Regions from separate parts of the Homo sapiens genome. Here all the other regions are linked to region 2. Evidence: fine-mapped expression QTL. A gene starts in region 2. Each other region holds a variant in brackets. All regions are shown on one strand. Distances are between the middles of the regions.

Region 1 (4,244 bases), 31 kb after region 2:
AGTTTCACAGTGTGGCTAGGACAGTGGGCTTGCAGGCTGGTGACAGCTCCCCTGAGCAAGAGGCCTCCTCCTCCTCCCCCAGAGCTAGGGAAGCTGGCAGGGCTTGGCTGGCTTCACAGCTTGGCAGGAGAAAGAACAGGCGCGGCTGTCAGCTCCTCTCCATCACTTCTTCCCACCTTGTGGTCTCAGAGGGAAAATGAACCCAGGCTATAGACTGGGCTGGCTCTGATAGATCAGGACCCACCCCTCCATTTGAGGTCTGCAGGGCTGTCTTGACTCCTCTGGAAATGGACATGACTCTAGAGGAAGGTGCTAGTGTGGTAAAACAGGGAAGGGGAGGAGGAGGCCAAGGAACCCCAGCTGTGGGGTAGTTCTGGTTCTTCCATCTGATGTATGCAAGAAACTACAGACAATAGACCTGCCAGTGTGAATTTCCAGCTCAGGCTGGAAATGCGTGCTGACTGTGACCACCAGGAGAGGGCGTCAGAGGGACAAGATCAGACCTGCTGGGTTCTCAGTGGTCCCAGGGCTGGCAGTGTGTCTTGGTTCATAAAAGACGGGCATGCAGTTGGCTCCATCTGGAAGCGTGCATCCTAGGGTGCCAGTATCCCCCGAGGGGACAAAACTCAGCCAGCGGGAATGGGAAATTATCTAGGGTGATAGGAATATTGTCAGCACAACCACACAACCCAAGATCAGAAAGGCCCTTGGCAACTCAAATGCCCAAGTTCCTTCCTTAAGTACCCTGCAGAGGCTGAACAGGGTCTGTGGGCTGCCAGGTTCTGTGCGGGATCAAGGGGAGCTCTGCAAGCTCTGGCCGGCTTGGCGGCACAGACTGTCTTGCTGCAAGCGATGAGAAGCAAATCAGCAGTGGTTTGAGAAACCAGAGTCTAGCGCAGCTTCTGCAATTCCAAACATTCTCCTTCCTCGTCCCCATTTCCCCCTTTCCTTGCCCATGGTGCAGGATGGAATGAGTAAAATAAATTATCTTTTTCTCCCCATTTCTCTTTACAGAACTGAAGAATAACGAAGTTATCCTTAGCGTCCTCCTAAAGGCTTTTCCTTTTGGCATCTTAAAAGCTTGAGAGATAAAACGGAAACCCCAGAGAGGAGTCTGGGCAGGCTCCCAGGGTGCATGCTGCCTCCATAAATCTGCTGAGCTCTAGACCCTCAATCAGGACTTGTCCCTTGGCTAGCAGGATCCTGGGAACACCTTTGGCCCTGCCCTGTGTAGAGATGTTCATGTCTGTTCCTGTGGGTCACTTTGTTAAGCTGAAGAGTTTTAAGAGGTAGAGCTCAGACCCTGGACTGGGATTTTTCTTACCACTCAAACTTGCTATCCACACACCCTGCACACCTTAGATAAAAAGAACATTTTAAAAGCAGAGTTCACTTTCACTCCAGTCTCCCCTCTTTTGCCCTCACTGAAGCCAAACCACAGAAGACTTTGAGGAATGAGAGACAAATGAGGTAGAGCTCACCTGTGCTCACCAGCTCCGTCAGGGTGGTCAGCCGACCCCTTTCCCTGGGAACCCCACTTCTCTCTGTGGCTGGCTTGGTTGTCGGGGGTGAGATGCCATATTGATTACAGGGCAGCAAAGAACCAGTACCAGGAATTTACTTGACCATTCCCCTTATTTTTCATCTAGAGGAATCTCGGATTCAGCCCTTTCATTGCTAAGACACCTTTTCACTGAGGTTCTTACCAGCTCAGCCAAATCTCCACTCTGCTATAGCAGAAGCAATAATGTTTGCTTTAAAAAGATTTCTTGACCTATGCCTTTTCTTAGAAAGTTTGATAGATTAGTTAGAACTTCAGATCATCAGATCAGTCTCAAATG[G/C]GTTTCTTGGAATTTTATATTTGACAATATTTATACTATACCAAACTCATTTGCAGTTCTTAGGTTTGTTGGTTAAAACATTTTTTTAAAGCAGTAAGTTTATAGAAAATGTTTTCATTTAATGGAAGGCTGGGGAATGTCCAGCATCAACCCCTATGGCATGCATTCCCAGGGGCCTTCTCATCTGGGCCTGGAACCTTTGGTTCAGGGCTTAGGGGAGAACAGGCCACATGGCAACAGCCACACAGTCATTGCCTTCAACACAGAGCCACGTGTCCCCAAACAGCAATAGTCATGCCCTTGTCCAGGCTGGGATCTAATTGACACAATAGGTCGTTGACTCCCTCCTAGTAGAGCTATCTAGGTTTGTCTGGAAAGTTTCCGACCCTGGCTTATAGGCACCACACCTCATGTACTCCTCATGGCTTGGATCTCTGTATTCAGCCTTTGTTCAGTCCAATAAACTTTGAGTAGATGATCTCAATTACTGTGTGTTTTTTCAGTTTGCTTTGTTTTAAAACAAAATCCCTTTTGAACCCATTGAAGTTTGACCTTTCTTTCATTTTGATGCCTCTTACTCTGCAGCAGAGTACAAAGCCATACATCCACCCTGTTAAAAAATATGCAGTCACCATGGCTGTCAAAACCACATGACATGATCTGTGTTCACTCAGGGACATATGGATTGTGCTTCCATCCACAGAGCTCAGCACATCCTTTCTGTTCACGGGAATTCCTCTTCTTCTTCTTTTTTTTTTTTTTTTTGAGACAGGGCCTCCCTCTGTTGCCCAAGCTGGAGTGCAGTGGTGCAATCACAGCTCACTGTGGCCTGGACCTCGTGGGCTTAAGTGATCCTCCCGTCTCAGCCTCCCAGGTAGCTGGGACTACAGGTGCTCACCACCACACCTGGCTAATTGTTTTATAGAGACAGAGTCTGACTATGTTGCTCAGGCTGGTCTTGAACTCCTGGGCTCAAGTGATCTTCCCATCTTGGCCTCCTAAAGTTCTAGGATTACAGGCATGAGCCACTGCACCTGACCCTCTTTCTTCTTACAGGAGGGCACAAAGCACACATCATAGGCTGCTGCTTCACCAGACAGGGGAACCGACTGTAGACACAGCTTTCCCAGGGGACAAGGGAGGCTGGGAAGTGGGACTTCAGTATTTCAACTACTAGATGCTGCTCTAGACAGAAAATTTTGCAGGATGGAAGATGCGGGGCTGAGGAGAGGAGGGAAGGGTGAAGCAAAGGAATATGGTAGCAAAAGTATGGGAGCGAACGTGGAGACCACCCCTCCAGGCAGTGTGGGGGATGCCAGTGGCCCAGGGCTATGCTGAGGTCCTGCGGTTGCAGAGCCTGTAACGTGCTTACAGCCGACCCAGCTGCAGAGCAGGGCTGAGAGGTCCGACACTGTGATGTGGTTTACGTTCTCTGAAGGCACTGAGCCCGTGGTGTGTGGGGGGCAGGAACTGCAGAAACCAGAAGAGTGAGATGCAGCCAGGATGCAGTGCCCGGCTGGGCTGAGGAGCACAGGGCACCAGAGTGGAGCAAACAACAAACATATGGCTCCCTGGGTTCGGCAGCCGCCTCGCCCCACCTGAGGTGTTTGTGCTGCAGAAGTTGTCCTGTGCTGGTCAGATGGTGTAGCTGAGCCTCATAAAGATAACAAGACATTGCTCCCAGCACAGAACCCGCGTGGAGCAAACATTTAGGCCAGTCTTCCTCCACACCCATCCCTTGATAAAAGGGGCAGGGCCGCCACCTGCCATAGGGTATCTTGTGCAAATTAGGAAAAGGCACCCCCCTTTCTCTGGCCAGTGAAACCCCACAGGCTTCCCTCCCCGCTCCTTTGCCAAGCACCGTCTTGCACACACTTGTATGCTCCCTGATTTCCCAGCTGATAATGTTTTTTCTTTCTCCACTTTCGGCTCATTCCTCTCAACGAAGGCTGTTTCTAACCTACTTCTTCATAGCACTACCTCAAGCTGCTTCATGGAGCCTATCTTCTTCCTCATTACATCACTGTGGGACATGCAGTCAACAATCAAATGAGGCCCAAAGGGAAACTGAGGCACAGAGCACCTAAGTGATACCTGGGGTCCCCAAACCTCCCCGGCAAACCTGAGATTTCGCATCCCAGTTTTTAGAGCCCTCAAAAGTTGCGTGTGTCAGACCCAACCAGCTCCGATGTTCTAAGTGGGTTTTATTTTCATTTTCTTCTTGTTCTGAAAAGCAACCGCAGTCACACAAGAGAGAGGAGAGTCCCAACTCCGCCGGCTGCACACAGGCTCCCTCTCTCCCCAGTGGGCTAGGAGCACCTTCTTCCTCTTTGTCCTTTCTTCTCGACAGAGTTCAGAAGGAACAGCTGGCTGCCATCTTCAAGCTCATGAAAGACAACAAGG
Region 2 (4,258 bases):
TTGTCAGAACACTGAGCAGTCTCCTAGTTCTGCGTCCGTCTAGCCATGGGGTCTGCCATGAAAGCCTGTGGATCTGCTATTGGGTTGGTATTTTAAACTTTCACTTGGGTGAAACTTGTTCATCATTTTAAATAAAGCAACATGATTTGGAGTTGTGTTTTTGGCATTGTTTTGTCCTTATTTTCTTTCTTACTCATTTGAAAGTCAACAATGTACTTTGTCAGCAGAACAGGACTTTAAAAAAATGTATTTACACTTTAAAACAATGGGATGGAGCACAAAATTAAGGCCCTGGGCCAGGAGCATTGATGCACACCTGTAATCCCAGCTGCCCAAGAGGCTAAGGCAGGAGGATCACTTGAGCCCAGGATGTCGAGGCTGCAGAAAGCTATGATCATGCCTGTGAATAGCCACTGCACTCCAGCCTGGGCAACATAGTGAGACCCTGTCTCTTTAAAAAAAAAAAAAGAAAGAAAGACCCTGTCTCTTTAAAAAAAAAAAAAAAAAATTGGCTGGGCGCGGAGGCTCACGCCTGTAATCCCAACACTTTGGGAGGCTGAGGCAGGCAGATTGCCTGAGGTCAGGAGTTCAAGACCAGTCTGGCCAACACGGTGAAACCCTGTCTACTAAAAACAGAAAAAAATTAGCCGGGCATGGTGGTGGGCGCCTGTAATCCCAGCTACTCAGGAGGCTGAGGTGGGAGTTTCGCTTGAACCCGGGAGGTGGAGGTTGCAGTGAGCCGCGATTGCGCCACTGCACTCCAGCCTGGGCAACAGAATAAGACTCCATCTCAAAAGAAAAAAAATAGGCCCATACACTGGCTGAAACTTCCACAGTGGTTAAAAGCTAGTCGCCCGTAGATAAAGCCTATTTCACATTTTATAGTTTATAGGCTCTTTTCATCAACCACCACTAAAAGGAAGTGCATGGCCCGCTTAATATCGTGCAGTGCAGCAGAATTCAGCTCTCCCTGTTGCTGAGGGGTCTCGTTTGTGTATCTTCATTTAAAAAGAAGCACTCCATCTAATATCTGGTTTATATCACAGATCAGCTCAGGCACTGTAATATTCCCAAAAAAGTATTAAAGGCATCCTCAGCAAAAACTGGAACCGTGTTTTTTTTAACATTAGGCCTTATGTTTGGCGTGATACCTGACATGCCCGTCCTGTGTTTATTTAAAATAACTAAAGAGTGGGTGGGGAGTGGTAGGAAAGTATGTTTTTGGTTACAACGTGTTTATCTCAAAATCCACTGTTCAGCAACAGAGGCCTGGGAGGATCTGGAGAAACAAAAACAATAGCCTTCATTTCCTTCATTGTACCCTCCCACCCTGCATGCATTCTGGAATTGTGCAAAGAAGAAAGTCTGGTAAGAGGAATAGCGTTGACCAAGGACCTGCAGCTGAATTTCAGGTCTAGGGGCGGGGGAGCCATGTTACTGTTAACAGGGAGGCCTGTGTTGAAGGCTGCTGGCCTCAGCTCCGAAGGGAGCATTCACTGGCCGGGATCTGGAGATGTCCTCTGTGAAAGTGCATTAAGGCAACCCTGAGGATTAAAAGCAACTCCTGACATGCCTATAAAAACGGCAGTGGCTGAACGTAATCCGGCATTATGATTGCTTTACAAGCCAATCCAGGCTGCCGTTTCCATGAAGCTTCCCGGGTTTGCTTGTCTCTCTGCATTCCCACATTTCCAAAATGCTCTAAGACGAACCGCCGTACTAAGGCCAAAGATGACAACCTAAGGGCACCTCATACAGTATTTCAAATTGAACCTGAGCTAAATTGTGCCCCAAAGCGTCAAGGCTGCCCAGGCCGGGCAGGGGTTGGCCCTCCTGTGCCTCCCAGGTGGTCAGGGCTCTGCCCCCTCAACACCCCCGCCCGCAGCCTGTGCGTCACCCTCCCGGGGCCGGAGGGGGCGGGGGCGGGGCGCGGCGATGGGGGCTCCGCCCCGAGGCGGGGCGCGGCGACCGGGCGCGGCGACGGGGCGCGGCGGGCTCCCTCGGGGTCCCAGCTGGCCCGCACTCGGCGGCCGCGGCGCGATGGAGGCGCCGGCCGAGCTACTGGCCGCGCTGCCTGCGCTGGCCACCGCGCTGGCCCTTCTGCTCGCCTGGCTACTGGTGCGGCGTGGGGCGGCCGCGAGCCCGGAGCCTGCCCGCGCGCCCCCGGAACCCGCGCCCCCGGCCGAGGCCACCGGGGCCCCGGCGCCGTCCCGCCCCTGCGCCCCCGAGCCGGCGGCCTCGCCCGCGGGGCCGGAGGAGCCTGGAGAGCCCGCGGGGCTGGGGGAGCTCGGGGAGCCTGCGGGACCGGGGGAGCCCGAAGGGCCAGGGGATCCCGCGGCGGCGCCAGCGGAGGCGGAGGAGCAGGCGGTGGAGGCGAGGCAGGTACGCACCGGGGCCCTCGCGGCCCCCTCCCCACCCCCGGGGCTCCGGCTGCCGCTGCCGTTCCCCGCCGAGCCAGGGAGCGGGGCCGCGGCCTCCAGCCCAGGCTGCCCCCAGGAAGCGCAGAACCCGCGGCCCGCAGGAAATGCAGGTCCCGCCATGCTAAGCCGCAGCCCCGCAAACTCGCCGCCCTCCCCCAGAAAGTGTGGCGAGGGGCGAGCCCGAAGGAGTTTGTTTGGAGGTGTTTTGCTCTCCCCTCCCCTCGGCCTCTCCCAGCCCAGGGCGTGCTCCGCAGCTGCTGGCTCCCAGGCCTCGGGACCAGGGCTTGGAATTTTGCTCCTCACCCACTTCTGACCCCTCCCGCCCACCGGTTCCCAAATCCACGTGCCTGTGGCTTATTTCCAGGCCTGCCATGAGAGTTATCTTGATGTTTAAAAAGTAGGACTTTCGGGGGGCGAGGGAGGAAAGCTGGCTTTTCTTTTTCAGCCAATTTGAAGTCCAGATTTCAGAGTCAGTGCTGTGGCGTTTTGTGAAGCCCGTGGGCTGGGACTGAAAGAAAAGGCACCCGATCCCAGCAGTCCTTTTTATTGTCGTTTTCAAGCTACACATCTAACACCCTCCTACCCCCACTCCCCCGGGTTGTAGGTAAGCTGGGCCTGGATGGAGTGAAGATGCAGGATAAAGCCCTCCTGGAGCACCAGTGAGCACCCCAAAGCGGCCCTCCCTGCCTCTGCCCCAGGCCTCCCGCCATGCTGTCCATCAGCTCGGCCTTGGCCACCTTGTCCTGCCTGTGGATATCTGAGAGGAGTCGGATTTCCCTCATCCACTCATCCCAGCCCCTACACTGTGTGCCCATGTTCCCTGGAGTTCACCACGCTTGGCCGGTCCAGGCCACCGCCAGGGTCTCCGAGTCGGATTGTAATCCCTTGTTCTTACCCCTGAGCTCCTTTTCTTGGAAGGGAGGAGAGCCGGGATGCGCATTGTCAGCGTGCCTGCGTGTCTGCGTGCCCACTCTGTCCTGTGCTGGACACAATGGTTTACCCTGGAGAGAAGCCCTTCGGGGGAGGAGGAGGCAGCCAGGCTGTGCTCAGAGGCATTTCTCTTTGCTGAGTAAGTGCGCCAGACCCCCTCTGAGCAGGCGCTTTGCTTGACAAGTGGGTGACTAATTGTGTCATTAGAGAGGATTCTAACCAGCCACATTTAATGGGGTGGAGCAGGGGCAGGCCCTGCCGTTCTTGCTTGGGGTGGGCTTCCAGACCTCACGCGGTGATGGTGGAGGGGGCGCGGTTTGGACATGTGCTGATCTGTTGTGTTTGCTCCCATATTTGGGATTCCTGCCTCCATCGAGGTCTCGCGGGAGCAGGAGAGGCCTTTAGACAGTTCTGGAGCCGTCATGCACACTCAGTCAGTCCTGGCCTTACAGGGCTGGCCCTTTATCACCCACACCAGGCTCTGGACTGAAGTGCAAAATGTCCTTTAGCGGCGCCCTGTCTTAGCTCAATCCTGTGGGGCACAGCGCTTAAAGAACTTTCTACAAGGCTTTCGGCTCTCAGCACATGGTACCTACAGGAATAGGTTCAGTGGTGTTTAAATAGGGCCACTCGCATAATTTGCCACTGTCTGGGTGAATGCACGTCCTCTGAAGCTGAATGGGTGCTCTGAAGGACAAGGCAGTATGGGGGTTCGCGTGCCAGGCAGCCCCCATGACATAGGTGCCAGTGAGGATGACTTGAGGCTTGTGTCTGTCCTCCCGCTAAGGCACCCTCCAGAGAGAACCCACCCCACAGGAGAATTCAATTGAAGTCAGTGCCCTTCCCCTTTGGGTTCAAGTCCCCAGGCCTTCCTGAGCTGGCCAAAGCTCCCCCAAAACTCCTGCCTG
Region 3 (4,157 bases), 52 kb before region 2:
TTTCCATCTCAAACCATATGTAAAAATTAACTGAAAATGAATCACAGACCTAAATGTAAGAGCTAAAACTAAAAAAACTTTTAAAAGAAAATATAGGAGTAAATTTTCAGGACCTGGGGTGAAGCAAAATCTTAGGACATCAAAAGCACACACAACAGAAGAAAAACTAAACAAATTGACTACATCAAAATTAAAAACTTTATCAAAGCCACAGTAAGACATCCCCTCACACCTGTTGGGATGGCTATTATCAAAAAGACAAAAGGTAACAAGTGTTGGTGAGGATGTGGAGGAAAGACAACCCTTGTACGCTATTGGTGAGGATGTAAATTGGTACAGCGAACATGGAAAACAATATGGAAGGTCCTCAAAATACTAAAAACATGTTATGATCCAGCAATTCTACCTCTGGGCATATATCCAAAGGAAATGAAAGCAGTATCTCAAAGTGATAGCTGCACTCCCATGTTCATTACAGCACTATTATATGTATATGTGTGTGTGTGTGTGTGTATTAATTATATAGCAAAGACATGGAAACAACTAAGTGTCCTTAAACGGATGAATAAAGAAAATGTGGTATATACAATGGTATATTATTCAGCCTTACAAAAGGAAATCCTGCCATTTAGGGCAACGTGGATGAACCTGAAGAGCATTACGCTAAGTGAAATAAGCCAGACACAGAAAGACAAATACTGCATGATCTTACTTATATGGGGAATATTAAAAAGTCAAACTCATAGAAGCAGAGAGTAGCATAGTGGTTGCCGGGGCTGGAGGGTGGGGGAAATAGGGAGACGTTGGTTAAAGAGTACAAAGTTTTCGTTAGGCAGGATGAGTGAGTGCTGAGGATCTAATGTACAACTTGGTGTTGACAGTTAATAACACTCTATTGTATACTTGAAATTTGGTTGGAAAGTAGATCTTAAATGTTCTCATTACACATGCAAAAAAAAGATAACTATGTGAGGTGATGGATATGTTAACTAGCTTGAGTGTGACCATCATTTCACAATGTATACATATATCAAAACACGTGGCCGAGTGCTAGGGCCCACGCCTGTAATCCCAGCACTTCGGGAGGCAGGCGAATTGCTTGAGGCCCAGAGTTCAAGATTAGCTGGGCCAACATGGTAAAACCCCATCTCTATTAAAAATACAAAAAAATTAGCTGGGCATGGTGGTATACCCCTGTAATCCCAGCTACTCGGGAGGCTGAGGCACCAGAATTGCCTGAACCCAGGAGGAGGAGGCTGCAGTGAGCTGAGATCATGCCACTGTACTCCAGCCTGGGTGACAGAGCAAGATTCTGCCTCAAAAAAAAAACAAAAACAAAAACATGTTGTACCTCATAAATATATACAATTTTTGTAAGTTATACCTCGATAAAGTTGGGGGAATTTTTTTTTTTTAAGTTTTGTGCTTCAAAAGATACTATCAAGAAAATGAAAAGTCAATCTATAGAACGGGAGAAAACATTTGTTTGTTTTCCTAGAGCGTTTGCTGAAACAAAATGGGAGAAAATATTTGTAAATCATATATATAGAACTTTTATCTAGAATATATAAAGAACTCTTACAACTCATTAATAAAAACAGAATCCAATTTAAAAATGGGCAAAGGATCTAACTAGGGCCGGGCACGGTGGCTCACGCCTGTAATCCCAGCACTTTGGGAGGCTGAGGCGGGTGGATCACTTGAGATCAGGAATTCAAGATCAGCCAGGCCAACATGGTGAAATCCCATCTCTACAAAAAATATAACAGTTAGCCGGGAGGGGTAGCATGCACCTGTAATCCCGCTACTAGGGAGGCTGAGACAGGAGAATCACTTGAACCTGGGAGGTGGAGGTTGCAGTGAGTCGAGATTGTGCTACTGCACTCCAGCCTGGGTGGCAGAGCAATACTCCACCTCAAAAAAAAAAACAAAAAACAAAAAAACAGAAAATAACTGCAAGCACGTGGAAACACTGACAAACTCATCCTCTGCTAGTAGAAATGTAAAGTGGTATAACAATCTGGCAGTTCCCCCACAGGCTAAGCAGTCAGATACCACATGACCCAGCAATTCCACCATTCCTAGGTGTGCATCAAAGAGATCTGAAAACACATCCACACAAAAACTTGTACACGAACTTTATGTATTACCATTGGGGGAGTTCAGTCAGGATGGTGGGGAAAATTATAAGACGCAAACCTTCTTGGAAGGCCTGGGGCGTTTGCATAAGCTCCAGTGATAAACTTAGCTGAAGGCAGCCTTGTCCCCTTAGTTAAATAAATTACAGTAGAAACAAAGGAATGTGGGGAGTTTAAAAAAAAAAAAAAGGAATGTGGGGAGTTTATCTAAATAGCTTGTTTACTCTTGTGGTCCTAAGGCTAACCTTTGATTTCCCGCCGGTGCTTAATTGCTTTCTACTCGGGAAGTCCACGATGTCAATTACCCTCTAGTGGTGTTGACTCAAGCCTTTGTCAATTAATATTTACTGAATAAATGTGAGTCTCACTAGCTGGTCAAGGCCGCTTTTTTTTTTTTTTTTTTTTGGAGACGGAGTCTCGCTCAGTC[G/A]CCCAGGCTGGAGTGCAGTGGCGCGATCTCGGCTCACTGCAAGCTCCACCTCCTCGGTTCACACCATTCTCCTGCCTCAGCCTGGGACTACAGGTGCCCGCCACTACGCCTGGCTAATTTTTTTGTATTTTTAGTAGAGACGGGGTTTCACCGTGTTAGCCAGGATGGTCTCCATCTCCAACTGTTTACAGCACTCTGCGTGGAGTCTATAAGCTGCCCGGATGCTCAGCCAAACTGGCAAAGCAGAATATCTGTGTGTCAGTGTACTTTATTCATCCATTGTTGGGTCAGGGTCTGCAGGACAGACCCCTGAAACTCATAATACATAAAATATAGGAATGACTCAAATTTTATAATATATTGTGACATGAATGAGCCTTGAAACCATTATGTTAAAAGAAACCAGGCACTAAAGACCACATGTTGTATGATTCTATTTACATAAAATGTCCAGAATAAGCATATCTATAGACAAAGTAGAGGAATGGGTGCAATAGTAGTGAAAGGGGAGAAAGTTGGGAGTGCCTTAGGGAGGTTGCATTAGGAGGCTGGAATGAGAAGTGACTCTAATGTGCACAGGGAAAATGCTCTAAAATTGAGTAAAGTGATGGTTACACGACTCTGAATATAATAAATTGTACTGACTTTGCAATGGATTCTTTAGATTGATTAAATGGGTGAATCATATGGTATATGAATTTTTTTTTTTTTTTTGAGACGGAGTCTAGCTCTGTCGCCCAGGCTGGAGTGCAGTGGCGTGATCTCGGCTCACTGCAAGCTCCGCCTCCTGGGTTCACGCCATTCTCCTGCCTCAGCCTCCCAAGTAGCTGGGATTACAGGCACCCGCCACCACGCCTGGCTAATTTTTGTATTTTTAGTAGAGATGGGGTTTCACCATGTAAGCCAGGATGGTGTTGATCTCCTGACCTCATGATCCGCCCGCCTCGGCCTCCCAAAGTGCTGGGATTACAGGCGTGAGCCACTGCGCCCGGCCAGTATATGAATTATATCTCAATTTAAAAAGGCAGAATCTAACACCTTAATGAATCTTCTTCCAGTCTTTTTCTATGTATTTTTTACAAAAACAAATTCTACTATATATTCTCCATTTTATCATTTGTTTTCACGTAATATACAGGAGAATTTTTTGAACATTCACAGAGATAATTTTTATGGCTAGGGTAATCTATTATATAGATGTACTAATGTCTAACAGTTGAATACTTATTTCCAGTATCTCACTACTATAAACATCTTAGTAGCTAGATCTTGCCACAATATTTAATTATTTCCTGAGGATAATCTTACTAGTGAAATTGGTTATTCCACTGGGGCAAAGGTTATAAACATTTTTATCCCTTTTGATACCTAATGACAAATCACTTTTTATAAAGTACTACAAGTATATATCAGCAATGTAGTCTTCCCCAAGATGGAGTCTTGCTCTTGTCACCCAGGCTGCAGCACAACAGCACGATCTCGGCTCACTGCAATCTCTGTCTCCCAGGTTCAAGCAATTCTCCCGCCTCAGCCTCCTGAGTAGTTGGGATTACAGGCACTCACCACCGTGTGCGGCTAATTTTTGTTATTTT
Region 4 (4,258 bases), 21 kb after region 2:
GCTGAGGCAGGAGAGTCGCTTGAACCTGGGAGGTGGAGGCTGCAGTGAGGCAAGATCGTACCATTGCACTCCAACCTGGGCAACAAGAGTGAAACTGTCTCAAAAAAAAAAAAAGAAAAAATCAGACTTCCAAAGTCAAGTACAATTTTTTTTTTCTTTTGGTGACAGGGTCTTACTCTTGCCCAGGCTGGAATGCAGTGGCACCCCCATGGCTTACTACAGCCTCAACCTCTTGGGCTCAAGCGACGCACCTGCCTCGGCCTCCCAATGTGCTGTGATTACAGGTGTGAGCCACTGTGCCTGGCCCAGAATCTAAATGTGTACCAGCCTCTCTGTGCTCAGGAGGGCTTGGGCACGTCAGCTGATACTGGGTCCTTTGGGGATACGGATCTGCCCTGGCTCATGGACTCCTCGCCCTGGAGTGCAATTATTTGTTTGTCTTTCCTACTGGACCACGAGCTCCGTAAGGCAGGGACTGTGCTCATTGTTGCTGTTGTTTTTCATTTAATCTTTGTGTCCTTTGCACATAATAGGAGAACTGGCCTCCTGTCTATTCTTGATATTGGGCTTAGTTCCGGGGCCGTGCCCTGAATAGGTCAGTGACTGTTTGCCTGTCATTAAAGAGAGACATCAACCATGAGAAAAACCAACTGTTTTTCTGTCCATGCACACAACACTCCACAGAACCCTTCACTTCTGATACCAAATATGCAGCCAGCCCCACCCCTGCAACCAACACCTTCTCCAGCCACCCAGACACCAAGTGGGTGTCCTCCCGTTCAACTCTGACATTAACTGCCTGGAATCAGTGCAGACCCCACAGGTTAGGGCCCAGTCCCACAGACTGCCCCCTACTTCAGGGGCCAATCACAAGTATCAGGTCCCCTCGTTCCCCACACTTTGGTCCTACTTGCCTACAAATCAAGGGTTCCATGAACCCCTCCTCAAGTTGAGTAATTTGCTACAGCGTCTTACGGAGCTCAGGGAAGCACTTATGTTAACTGGTTTATTAGAAAGGAAGTGATAAAGGCTACAGATGAACAGCCAGATGGAGGTACCTAAGTAGAGTAAGGTCCAGTAGGGTCCTGAATGCAGGAGCTTCCGTCCCCATGGAGTTGGGGTACGCTACCCCCTGCGCACGGGAATGCATTCAGCAGCCTGGAAGCTCTCCAAACCCTATCGGGATGTTGACGGAGGCCTCATCACATAGGCGTCATCGATTCTTAACTCAATCTCCAGCTCCTCTCCAGTCTCTGGAGGAAGCTGGGGGGTGGTGGGGCTGAAAGTTCCAAGCTCCTCATTGCAGCTTGATCTCTCTGGTGATCAGCCCACCCAGGAGTTACCTCATTAGAACAAAAGACACTCCTGTCACCCGGGAAATTCCAACGGACTTAGGAGCTCTGTGCCAGGGACTGGGATCAAAACCAAATGTTAGAACAAAACATGCTGCTAGCACCCCTGTAACTTAGGAAATTCAAGGGACTTAGGAGCTCAGTGTCAGGGCTGGGCATGGTGGCATGCACCTGTGATCCCAGCTATTCCAGAGGCTGAGGCAGGAGGATCGCTTGAGCCCTGGAGGTCAAGACTGCAGTGAGCCGTGATTGCACCACTGCACTCCAGTCTGGGCAACAGAGCAAGATCCTGTC[T/C]CAAAAAACAAACAAAATAAAAACTGTGTCAAGAACTGGGGGCCGAAACCAAATATATATATATTTAGGATGTTACATTCTTTCTACTTTTTTTTTTCCAAGTGATCCTTCTGCCTCAGCCTTCTAAGTAGGTGGGATCACAGGTGCGTGCCACCATGCACAGCTAATTTTTAAATTTTCAGTAGAGGCGAGGTGTGCACTATGTTGCCAGGCTGGTCTTGAACTTCTGGGCTCAAGCAGCCCTCCCACCTCAGCCTCCCAAAGTGCTGAGATTGCAGGCATGAGCCACCACACCTGGCCTCTTACTTTTTTTTTCTTTTTTAGAATATATAAGAAAATAAATAAAGAAAAAATGGGGTCTTTGGATCTGACTGTCCAAAGACACCATTAGCATTTAAAAAATATATTTAGTCATTCATGCATATTAATGGAAAGTCCAAATTATACTGAACTCTATAAGACGGAAAGGAAAAGCTGCCCCCCAAGCTCCTTTCCCAAGAGGTAGCCACTGCTGACAGTTTCTCGTGGGCCCTTCCAAAAAACAAACCTTTTCTCTGCATTTTCGAGCACATGCGTGCATTTCCACTTTGCCATTTACAGCAAGATGACTGCGCTGCTCACGTGGGGCTGCTGCTTGCATTTTTCCCTCGATTTATCTTGATGTACTTTTCATGTCAGCACCTATCAACGCCTCCTTTTTTTTTTTTTTTCTTTTTTTAAGATGCAGTCTTGCTGTGTCACTAGGCTGGAGTGCAATGGCGCAATCTTGGCTTACTGCAACCTCCACCTCCCGGGTTCAAGCGATTCTCCTGCCTCAACCTCCTGAGTAGCTGGGATTAAAGGCACCTGCCACAACACTCGGCTAATTTTTTTTTGTATTTTTAGTAGAGACGGGGTTTTGCCATGTTGGCCAGGCTGGTCTCGAATTCCCAACCTCAGCTGATCCACCCACCTAGGCCTCCCAAAATTCTGGGATTACAGGCGTGAGCGACCGCACCCGGTCCCCAGTTCTGTCTTTTCAACTGCACGCGGTCAGAGTCATTATATAAAAATCCTGATGGACATTTCTCCAGTCTGGAGCAGATCCCTAGAAGTGGGTTTGCTGTGTCAAATGGAGCGGCTCCTCTTCCTGCCCCCGGAAGAGGCCTGCCCACTCCGACCTCAGCCATAGAGATACTTTGCTGTGCAAAATTTGGGAAACGTCAGGACACACAGGCACCACTTCGCCATAGATAGCACTAAGTCTGTGTGTACAAAGTGCCCAACAGGGAAGACGCTGTGTTGCCTGCGCAGCTCCCCCCAGGCAGCATTTTGTGTAGTCAAGGAAGTCCCTCAGGCCAGGCACAGTGGCTCACTCCTGTAATCCCAACACTCTGGGAGGCCGAGGCAGGCGGATCACCTGAGGTCAGGGGTTCGAGACCAGCCCGGCCAACATGGTGACATGCCATCTCTACTGAAAACACAAAAAAATTAGCTGGGCTTGGGTGGCGGGCGCCCGTAATCCCAGCTACTCGGGAGGCTGAGGCAGGAGAATCGCTTAAACCCAGGAGGCAGACGTTGCAGTGAGCCGAGATCGCGCCACTGCACGCCAGCCTGGGCAACAAGAGCCAAAACTCTGTCTCAGAAACACACTCAGAAAAAAACAGAAACCAAACAAACAAAAAGTCACTCAGAGGAGCTCAAGGCCCCTCTGGGTTTGCCACTTCCGACCCGCTGTGGGGCTTGTAAAAACTTTGCCTCCCGGCACAGCTCAGTGTTTTGTTAGGGAGCCTCCCGTGAGCGGCCGACGCTGGCTGGGCTCCATGGGATCAGCTGGGGCTGCTCATTCATTCATTTCCACATCTACCCACTGGGCTTCCAAGTTGAAGTTCCTGGGGCTCCCATGTCCCCTCCCCATGACCTTCAATCCCACAGAGCCCATGGGCACGGCACGTCGCTCTCATCCTCTGACATTCCTGCAAGCTGAAGTCACTTCTTCCTTCCACCAAGGCCATCCCGGGCCATTCCTCTGATCATCTGTTTATTGTGTCTCTGTGTGGGAGAGAACTGGCTGAAGAGGTGGGGCTCCAGTTTTGGGAACATGGACACTGAGAGAGTTGGGGATGGAAAACAACATAGAAGGAAGCAAAGCCAGAGGCTGCGATGGCCATGCTGCCTGGCCCTGGTCCCAGACAGACACCCCAGCCAGCTTTCCTCTTGCACCCTTTGTCTGCTGGCCGCAGCGTCGCAGTGGGAGTCCTGGGCCCACTTCTCCAAATGGCACACAGAAGCCTCAACAGGCACCCACCTGGGAAAGGCCAAGGCCGAGGGCTTGGGGTGCACAGTCAAGAACACGCCTCAGCTCAGCATTTGTGAGCCGAGTCACTTTGGCCCATCGTTTGTACACAGCCCCCACCTGCTGGTTGACCATGACCACAGGGCAGGCGCTGCCACAGGGCGTGGGCAGGCTGGACCTTCGAGGGCCTCCTCTGTCTCCCCTACCTTCTGCCCCCCCACCACTTCCCATCACCCAGTCTGTGCCAAGGGCACTGACCCTGTCCTTGTCTTGCAGGAAGAGGAGCAGGACTTGGATGGTGAGAAGGGGCCATCATCGGAAGGGCCTGAGGAGGAGG

The links. PIP is the estimated chance that this variant, and not a neighbour inherited with it, causes the effect. A credible set is the group of variants that fine-mapping cannot tell apart.
Region 1: its variant is the best candidate, but not a certain one, in a credible set for the expression of MXRA7 in prefrontal cortex (BrainSeq, PIP 0.78).
Region 3: its variant is the best candidate, but not a certain one, in a credible set for the expression of MXRA7 in whole blood (TOPMed, PIP 0.86).
Region 4: its variant is the best candidate, but not a certain one, in a credible set for the expression of MXRA7 in atrial appendage (GTEx, PIP 0.50).

The regions. Positions count from the first base shown.
Region 1 is chr17:76,677,650-76,681,893 of GRCh38, reverse strand. MXRA7 (matrix remodeling associated 7) reads left to right here. Exons shown (of 4, transcript NM_198530.4): 4 at 1,015-2,328. The coding sequence ends at 1,027. Among named protein-coding and RNA genes, the nearest start is that of MXRA7, 31 kb to the left of the region's middle. The variant G/C (reference allele first, on the strand shown) is at 1,842.
Region 2 is chr17:76,708,729-76,712,986 of GRCh38, reverse strand. MXRA7 (matrix remodeling associated 7) reads left to right here and starts at 2,022. Exons shown (of 4, transcript NM_198530.4): 1 at 2,022-2,382. The coding sequence starts at 2,041. It also overlaps a transcript of JMJD6 not described here. RefSeq lists a silencer at 1,791-2,000.
Region 3 is chr17:76,761,043-76,765,199 of GRCh38, reverse strand. The region is part of intron 8 of MFSD11 (major facilitator superfamily domain containing 11); the gene reads right to left. Among named protein-coding and RNA genes, the nearest start is that of MFSD11, 25 kb to the right of the region's middle. The variant G/A (reference allele first, on the strand shown) is at 2,566.
Region 4 is chr17:76,688,116-76,692,373 of GRCh38, reverse strand. It overlaps MXRA7 (matrix remodeling associated 7), which reads left to right. Exons shown (of 4, transcript NM_198530.4): 2 at 4,198-4,258. Among named protein-coding and RNA genes, the nearest start is that of MXRA7, 21 kb to the left of the region's middle. The variant T/C (reference allele first, on the strand shown) is at 1,647.